2 separate regions of the Homo sapiens genome follow, and region 1 is linked to region 2. The links come from fine-mapping of genetic effects on gene expression. A gene starts in region 2. The other region holds a variant in brackets. All regions are shown on one strand. Distances are between the middles of the regions. Region 1 overlaps KIAA0319. Region 2 holds the start of TDP2 (tyrosyl-DNA phosphodiesterase 2).

What was found. PIP is the estimated chance that this variant, and not a neighbour inherited with it, causes the effect.
Region 1: its variant is the best candidate, but not a certain one, in a credible set for the expression of TDP2 in whole blood (TOPMed, PIP 0.82).

Annotation. Positions count from the first base shown.
Region 1 is chr6:24,627,392-24,631,782 of GRCh38, reverse strand. All of the region lies in intron 1 of KIAA0319, which reads left to right. Among named protein-coding and RNA genes, the nearest start is that of KIAA0319, 17 kb to the left of the region's middle. The variant G/A (reference allele first, on the strand shown) is at 1,899.
Region 2 is chr6:24,664,980-24,669,370 of GRCh38, reverse strand. TDP2 (tyrosyl-DNA phosphodiesterase 2) reads left to right here and starts at 2,472. Exons shown (of 7, transcript NM_016614.3): 1 at 2,472-2,673; 2 at 2,760-2,845. The coding sequence starts at 2,509. ACOT13 (acyl-CoA thioesterase 13) reads right to left here and starts at 2,294. Exons shown (of 3, transcript NM_018473.4): 1 at 2,027-2,294. The coding sequence starts at 2,107. It overlaps LOC124901279 (a long non-coding RNA gene), which reads left to right. Exons shown (of 2, transcript XR_007059509.1): 2 at 1-254. RefSeq lists enhancers at 2,256-2,550, 2,082-2,753, 2,754-3,426.

The DNA of each region.
Region 1 (4,391 bases), 38 kb after region 2:
CTTACTATAGCACAAGGCAAAGCACCTACTTAGATAGCAGTGGTGACCCCGTTAGATAAGAATTGAATTTAGGGAGAAATAAAAGTGCTGAGCCATTTGAAAGCTAAGTTGTTTCCATAATTAGGGAGAATATTTAAAGCCACATGGTGTACACTCAAGGTTTCACCTTCTAAAATTGTTTTTCCTAATGTAGGGACAGTGTTTCCAGGAGTAAAAAACTGTGGTGTTATGTTGTAATACAAGGGCTGTAAGACAGTGCATTAATCTAAGACTGTGGAAAAGATGGTAAAATTTACCATAGCAATTGGTGCATATTTGTTTCTTACCATTTCTTTCTCCCAACGTATACTCCTTCACTACATGCCACCTATTGCTCCTTTCAATTGTTCTCTTATCTGTTTTATCAAGTTGACCCTCCCAATGAGTGGGAAATCCCCTCCTTCCTTTCTAGCACTGTTTCTGTGACTCCTGGAGAGGTGCTCAGGAGGTAGACCCATGGCCTGCATTCACCGCTGAAGCTGAAGGCTGCCTTGGCGAAGACAGGTTTTGTCAAAGTAGTGGCTGATACGGCAAGGAAAGAGGAATCATAAAAGAGGAGAACTTCCCTAGCTGCCCCACTGGCTAAATTGAACTAGGAATATATTATGGCTGCATCTTTTGTGAGTTCACTGGCTCTAAAAAGCAGGGCTTTGCCAGCTTAGTTTCCTCACTCAGTAAACCATAAATGGGACAACCTATAAATACAGCTCGTTCTTAACAGCCTGTAGGACAATGCTATGCAGACAATCTGTTTGGATCTCTGAAAGAGGCCCTCTTTGGGCTGTTTCCATTCCCTTCAGATACAAAAGCTGCAGCTTGCCCTTTTCTGAGCCTGCAGAAGCATTTCACTCCAGCATTATTTATAAACATCCCAAGTTGGAAACAAAGAAATGATGAAGTAAATTGTAATAATCAATGGAATGTTGCAAACAAATTATAAAAAATATAACAATGAAGGATAATTTTTGTGATAAAATATTGAATGAAAGTATTATACAACTCTAAGATGATAGCTGTACTAAAGTTTGTGTGTATATGTGTATATATATATATATATATACACATATACACACAATTGAATAAATGGAACGAGAATCTAAAAGAAGAAAAGCAGCCATTTGTTGGCACGATTTATAATTTTTTTCTAGGAATGTACAATTTATAATGACTAATTTTTTAATGTAATTTTTTTCTTTTTTCTTTCGTTCTTTCTTTTTTTTTTTTTTTTTTTTTTTGAGACAGAATCTTGCTCTGTCACCCAGACTGGAGTACAGTGGTGCAATCTCAGCTCACTGCAACCTCCGCCTCCCGGGTTCAAGCAATTCTCCTGCCTCAGCCTCCCAAGTAGCTGGGATTACAGGCGCATGTCACCATACCTGGCTAATTTTTTTATTTTTAATAGAGAAAGGGTTTCACCATATTGGCCAGACTGGCCTCGAACTCCTGACCTTAAGTGATCTGCCCACCTCAGCCTCCCAAAGTGCTGGGATTACAGGTGTGAGCCACTGCACCCAGCAATTTTTTTAATGTAAGTTTTTGTCACGCTATTATTATTTTTATTTTTTTAGACAGAGTCTCACTCTGTCACCCAGGCTAGAGTGCAGTGGTACAATCTCTTCTCACGGCAACCTCCACCTCCCAGGTTCAAGCAATTCTCCTGCTTCAGCCTCCCGAGTAGCTGGGATCACAGGCATGCGCCACCATGCCCGGCTAATTTTTGTATTTTTAGTAGAGATGGGGTTTCGGCATGTTGGCCAGGCTGGTCCTGACCTCAGGTGAGCCTCCCACCTCAGCCTCCTAAAGTATTGAGATTACAGGCATGAGCCACCAGGCCCGGCCTTGTCATGCTATTTAAAGAA[G/A]GATTTATTTCATTCACTCAGCCTCCATTCAGACAGTGTGCTAGAGCCCAGGCAGAGAGATGCAGCCAATAAAAGCACATTTCTCCTGGGGTGTACCTCTCCAAGGTTCTGTAACATATAATTTTGAAAATCACACTAATCTCCTTCATTAAAAATTTTATCTCAGATCTAAAGCAGCAGCCACGGGGACAGCAACGTTTCAGTCACAAGGTTTGTTTCATAACTCATTTTGTCTTTTTATTTTTAAAAAAGGTAGCAGCCATGAGAAAGCCTTACCATTCCACACCCATCACTTTTAGCTGTACAGTACCTTATGCTGGGATAAGTGTTTCATGTATTCTGAGTTTTCTTTCTTTTTTTTTTTTTTTTTGAGACAGAGTCTCACTCTGTTGCCCAGGCTGGAGTGCAGTGGCACGATCTCGGCTCATTGCAAGCTCTGCTTCCCGGGTTCATGCCATTCTCCTGCCTCAGCCTCCCAAGTAGCTGGGACTGCAGGCGCCTGCCACCGCACCTGGCTAATTTTTTGTATTTTTAGTAGAGATGGGGTTTCACCGTGTTAGCCAGGATGGTCTCAATCTCCTGACCTCGTGATCCTCCCTCCTTGGCATCCCAAAGTGCTGGGGTTACAGGCGTGAGCCACCACGCTGGACTGTCATTGATTCCATCATTGGCTGACTTCCTTTGGTCAGAGATGAAAGAAAACCCCTAGTGTGTAAAGGCTCGAGTTGTTATTTTGTCTCACTATAAGGTAGATGGCGTTTTTCACCTTAAACTTAGAAAATACTGTCTGCTCTAGGTACTTCATGCAGTCGCTAATGGGACAGGACAGGCAAATTTCAGGAAGCTTTTCTTTTGAAAAGTACAAACAATGGTGTTATGGGTTGCGTGGTGTCCCCACAAAAGATGCTTTCAGTCCTAACCCCCAATACCTGTGAATGTGACCTTACGTAAAAATAAGGTTTCTGCGGATGGTATCAAGAAGAGGTTATGAGAGGGCCCTTTATCCACTGCGACTGGTGCCCTTATAAGAGGAAAATTTTGACCCAGAGGCACACAAGGAGAGCTCCATGTGACAATAGAGGGACAGATTGGAGGGATGCAGCTGCAAGCAAAGGAACGCCGAGGATTGACGGCCACCATCAGAAGCTAGGAAGGGACAAAGAAGGATTCTGATCAGACTCTCAGAGGGACATGGCCCAGCTGATGCGTTGATTTCCAACTTCCAGCTTCCAGAACTGTGGGAGACTACAAAACATTTCTGTTGTTTTCCGGTGCTTAGTTTGCTGTACTTTGTTACAGTAGCCCTAGGAAACTAATTCAGATGGTAAATGCAAGGGTTGTATTAAAAAAAAAAAAGAAAGAAAGAAAAAAGCACTGCAGTGAGAACCTGATGGGGGAACGGAAATGGACAGGTGTTCTGGACCTGGTCAGATCTTTTAAAAACCCACAGGGCAGTTGCACTTTAAAACTTACAAGTGTGTCTCATGAATTCTTTCAGAATCAAATGTGACATATTAAAATAAAAACACTTTAAAGAGAACTTACAGGCTAGAAAACAGAAAAACATAAGGTTCCTTAGAAAAATTATTGAACGGAAAGCAAAAAAATTCTTAAAAAGGTGGGAAAATTACAATACCTGACATTTCTAACCAGTACTTACTCTAAAACAAGGTCTATAAAAGCAACAGTCCACAAATTTACTTATTTAGGAAGTTTAGATTTTTAAAAATATGGTGATTTAGGAAGCTAAATGCCATTATAGGATGTTTTTATTGCCCATGTTCTGTAATTATTAGGACATGCTTTCCAGCACTACGTGTGCTTGAAATAATATAAAACCTGGAAGCAATGATGAATAATGTCTAACTTTTCATTAGCACAATTACTCAGTTCATTTTGCCCTAGAATAAGCAGTATTTGGAAGGAGGCTCCTACATTCAGGACATGTCTTCAGCATTCTTCTGGTGAACATTTATGCTGTTATTTGAGTAGTTTAATAATTTTTGAATAGTGACTATAAATGATGCACACAAATATTCCTCTTCTAGATTGTCTTCTGTGGATTAATTAACAGTTCATTAGATAATTATCTGTACTTTTAAGACCATAATGTTAGTCCCTGAACTGAAACCAGTAAGAAGATTGCTGGAAGTCCTGGCCTCTTTTCCCATTTACGGAGTAGGAAAGGTTACTTTGGTGCTTGAGGTAAATTCCAGTTTTCAGGCTACACATCGTGTTCATTTCTTTATTCTGCTAGGGCCACAGCTCATGACCTAGGTAGGCCCTTGCTGTGAATTCCTCACTGTATCATTTGTTCCCTAATTCTGACCTCTGTTTATCAGACCATAATCATGTCTTTCAGAAGAAAACAAGGAAGGAAGGGAGAGAGGAAAGGAGGGAAGGAGGGAGGAAAAAAAGGAAAGAAGGAAGGGAGGGAGGGAAAATGCTCACTAAGACCTAATCACCTTCCCTCCCAATTCATTCTTTCCATGG
Region 2 (4,391 bases):
CAAAAGAATGCAACCATTTGTCTCCCACCTACCCGTGACCTGGAAGCCCCCTTCCCGCTTCAAGTTGTCCCGCCTTTCCGAACCCAACCAGTGTTCATTTTACATATATTGATTGATGTCTTATATGTCCCTAAAACGCATAAAACCAAGCTGTGCTCTGACCACCTTGGGCACATGTTGTCAGGACCTCCTGAGGCTGTGTCACTGCGTGCGCATCCTCAACCTTGGCAAAATAAACTTTCTAAATTAACTGATACCTGTCTCAAATTTTTGGGGTTCACAAGGTTTAGTTATAAATGCTTCTTATGGAGCATGATTTTCTTACAAGCGAGGCAGGAGAATCGGATCTGGAGGCAGGGAACCTAGGGCTGTTTCACGCTGACTTCCTAGAACTAAATTGAAAGTAAAACCCTAACTTCCCACACCAAGTAACAAAAGAACCAGAGGCTTCTCCCTTTCCAAACCCCCACCTTTTCTGTGTGGCAGATGGGAAATTGAAAGTACCTCTGATTGGTTGCAAAAAGCAAAATTACGCTAAGAAGTAAGTTATCCCTTAAAAAAAATTATTCTTTCTGCAACCAATCAGATCTTCCCATAGGAGTGTAACTATGTAACTTCACCATCTGATTGCACGCCACGTCTTCGTTTGCATATAAGGGCAACTTTGTAACTTCACTTTAGCCTTTCATTGGTTGCTTTTCACAGCCAATTGTGGGTCACCACTTCATTTACATGAGATGAGTACCAAGTGGCCAATAGGAGACTTCAATGGGGTATTAGGGCCCCTGAGCTGCTGCTCCACACCCCAAACACAGGAGTGTCCTTTCATTTTCAGTAAATCCCTGCTTTTGGCGGGGCATGGTGGCTCATGCCTGTAATCCCAGCACTTCGGGAGGCCAAGGCAGGTGGATCACCTGAGGTCAGCAGTTTGAGACCAGCCTGACCAACATGATGAAACCCTGTCTCTAATAAAAATAAAGAATTAGCCAGGCTTGGTGGCGCATGCCTGTAATCATCCCAGCTACTTGGAAGGCTGAGGCATGAGAATCACTTGAACCCAGGAGGCGGAGGTTGCAGTGAGCCGAGATCGTGTCACTGCACTCCCGCATGGGCAACAGAGCAAGACTCCATCTCAAAACAACAACAACAACAAACACCTTCAAGGTCTGGCGTGGCGGCTCACACCAGTAATCCCAGCACTTTGGGAGGCGGAGGCAGGCGTTTCACCTGAGGTCGGGAGTTCGAGAGCAGCCTGACCAACATGGAGAAACCCTGTCTCTACTAAAAGTACAATATTAGCTGGGCATGGTGGCGCATGCCTGTAATCCCAGCCACTCGGGAGGCTGAGTGAGGCAGGAGAATTGTTTGAACCAGGGAGGTGGAGGTTGCAGTGAGCCGAGATCGCGCCATTGCACTCCAGCCTAGGCAACAAGGGCGAAACCTCATCCTAAAAAAACAAAAACAAACAAACACCTTCGGGCTTTGTGAGTGCTGGTCTCAGAAAAGCACTCAGTCTTCCTCCAAGGGCTAACTTACTTCTTCAGGAGTTGGGTGCCTTTGAGAAATTTCCCAAACCACTACAGAGGAACAACTTCTCCCTTCGTTCACCACTCTACCAAGCACTTGGCTTTTGTACCTTATTGCAATTATTTATCTTCTAATCTTCTAGAGCCTAGAGAATTAGACTGTAATGTGCCTTAAATGCAGAGGTTTCTCTTACTCTTCTCTGGAGCAATGCAGACGTTTGTTGGTTGAAGGATCAAACTCCAAAGTCCCTCCCAGCCTTGGAACTGTCTCCACGAGTCATAACCATACTTATCTATGTTTAGATAGAGAACTTACGCGTTCGACCCAGCATATTTAGGGGCTCCATTAAAGTAATAATCATTATTACTAAGGTGAATTTACAGGCGTACTAGAACACAACCTAACAAGAGATAATTATTCAAAGCTCACAACGGCACCAAGCACGGTGCTTTCTTTTCCTTCATTAGAAGCCACGGCTTCTCCCCTACCTTTCCCATACCTTTCCCAAAACTCTCTCAAAATTGCGAGCCTTGGTCATGGCCTTTATCACCTCCCGCAGAGACTGAGTCATGCTGGTCATCGTGGACGGTTTTCCAGCCTTTGGGCTTTGCGCAAGAACGAACTTCGGAAGAGCTGGAAAGTCCAGAAGTTAGTGAAAGAAGGAGGACACAAAGGGCGAAGAGCCCGCACCCTTCTCCGCCCCTAGGAGCGCAAGAGGCCGGGAGTCAGGCGAGCTGGCAGCCCCGGTGGTCCGCGATTTGCTCACTGACTTTCCTCGCACCCTTGTGACGAAGCGCGCATGCGCGCTTCGCACCCACCGCCCCGGCGGCTCCCTTGCGGCGCAGCTGCACCAGTTTTCCGAGAGCAGCGCATTTCCCCGCCGGGCGGTTGATGCGGGAGCGCCATGACACAGGCGCCTGCGCAGAGCCGCGCGTTGGCCTCCTGTTCCGCTTAAAGGGGCGGTGCAGAGGCGGCAGGAAGATGGAGTTGGGGAGTTGCCTGGAGGGCGGGAGGGAGGCGGCGGAGGAAGAGGGCGAGCCTGAGGTGAAAAAGCGGCGACTTCTGTGTGTGGAGTTTGCCTCGGTCGCAAGCTGCGATGCCGCAGTGGCTCAGTGCTTCCTGGCCGAGAACGACTGGGAGATGGAAGTACGCTTTCGCTGTCCTCGCTTCCGGCTCCATTACCTAGGTCGGTGGAGCGCACAAACCTCATCCCTTGTGCCTTTGTTTTTCAGAGGGCTCTGAACTCCTACTTCGAGCCTCCGGTGGAGGAGAGCGCCTTGGAACGCCGACCTGAAACCATCTCTGAGCCCAAGACCTAGTAAGTGATGAGGGGAGCGGGAGCCAGTCCGCACGGAGGCAGTTTGATACCAGGTAGCCCTGCGCGTCCTGGGACCTGCCGTGGAGCTGGGCGGACGATGCTGAGGCAGATCTCCAAGCTGCGTAGCCAGAGGAGCAGGGCTTGCGTTGCTGCTGCTGCGCGGAGTTGCGCCCCAGCAGCGGATCTAACACTGCACCAGACTGTCGCTTCGAACGTGATTTGGGGTCCAGGGAGGAAAAGATGGAAATGTAATGTTTAACTCAAATGAAAGGAAATAAGTAAGCGAGAGGTTTGAAACAAATGAACGAAGGCTAAACCTTCTATCGAAAAATGGCAACTTGGAAGTCTCCTTGCTTCCTGTATTGTTTATTTATTCTAGGCCCTAGGCTGACCGGCCAGAATAACAGGTTTGTTGTTGTTGTTATTTTTTTTTAATGCACACCTACTCCTGTTATTTCAGTGCCCCTCTCCAGTTCCTGCACTTAAAAAGTGTAGCTGCCTTACAAGGCCCTCTACTATTTGGCTCCATAACTTAGAACCTGCCTTTCCAGGTTCCAGGCCTATCAAACTTTTACTTTTTTCCAACGGGTCATTTTCTCCTGTCTTTGAAACTTCGTAAAGATCTTTATTACCTGTGCCTGGAATTTTTTTCTTTTCCCTTCCTTGCTAATATTTGTCTTAAAGCCCCAAGCTGAGACATGATTTATCTCTAGGAAGCTTTTCCTGATGTCCTAAGTCTGGGTAAGAGTCCCCTTTTAGGTACTCTTATAGCATCCTGCATGACCCCTGTTACAATACCTTAGTCCGTATTATAATTGCTGTTCATTATTTTATGTCTCCTACTAGACTGCACATCTAGTAAGGAGTATCTGTTTTGTACATTGTTAATTTCCCAAAGTCTGACACAACATTTGACACATAATAAGCTCCCAATAAATATTTACTGAATGTATAAAATTCTCCCAGCTATATGTACAACCTGTAAAATTGACTGTTCATAGTGGAGACTTTATTTTCCCTTTGGTCTTTTCAGCTACACTGGCTTACAGATGTGATAAGATATTTTCTTTAGGTTCCTTTCTCTGTCTTGCCTCTTGTTGGGGAATTGTTTACTCACCCACAGTGATTTGTCTCTGGCTCCCGTTTTACTAACCAGAGCAAGTTGGACTAGGAGGTGTTTGCCTAGCTCAAACTGGCCAGTCAGATCCTCTCCTTGGTTTCAGAATTAGGACCAAGAGAGTCAAGTCTGAGTCTTCCTATGGAGCTGGAACTGTAACATGTTAACTTAGCACCTGTGAGGATTCATACATATCTTTTTTTGTGTACAGAGAAGCTGAGAACAGAGGTCTGCAGAGAGACAATGAAGCAGAGGGAAGTTGAAGTGTAGGATTGAGAGAAAGCCCTTAACTGCCCTTCCTTAAACATGGCTGTATTTCTGTACCAGGCTCTGTGACATGTTTGTTTCCTTATAAATTCTCCTGTTTTGGTCAAACCAACCTGAGTTAATGTCTGTTGGTTGCAACAGACTATATTGTAACCAATAAAT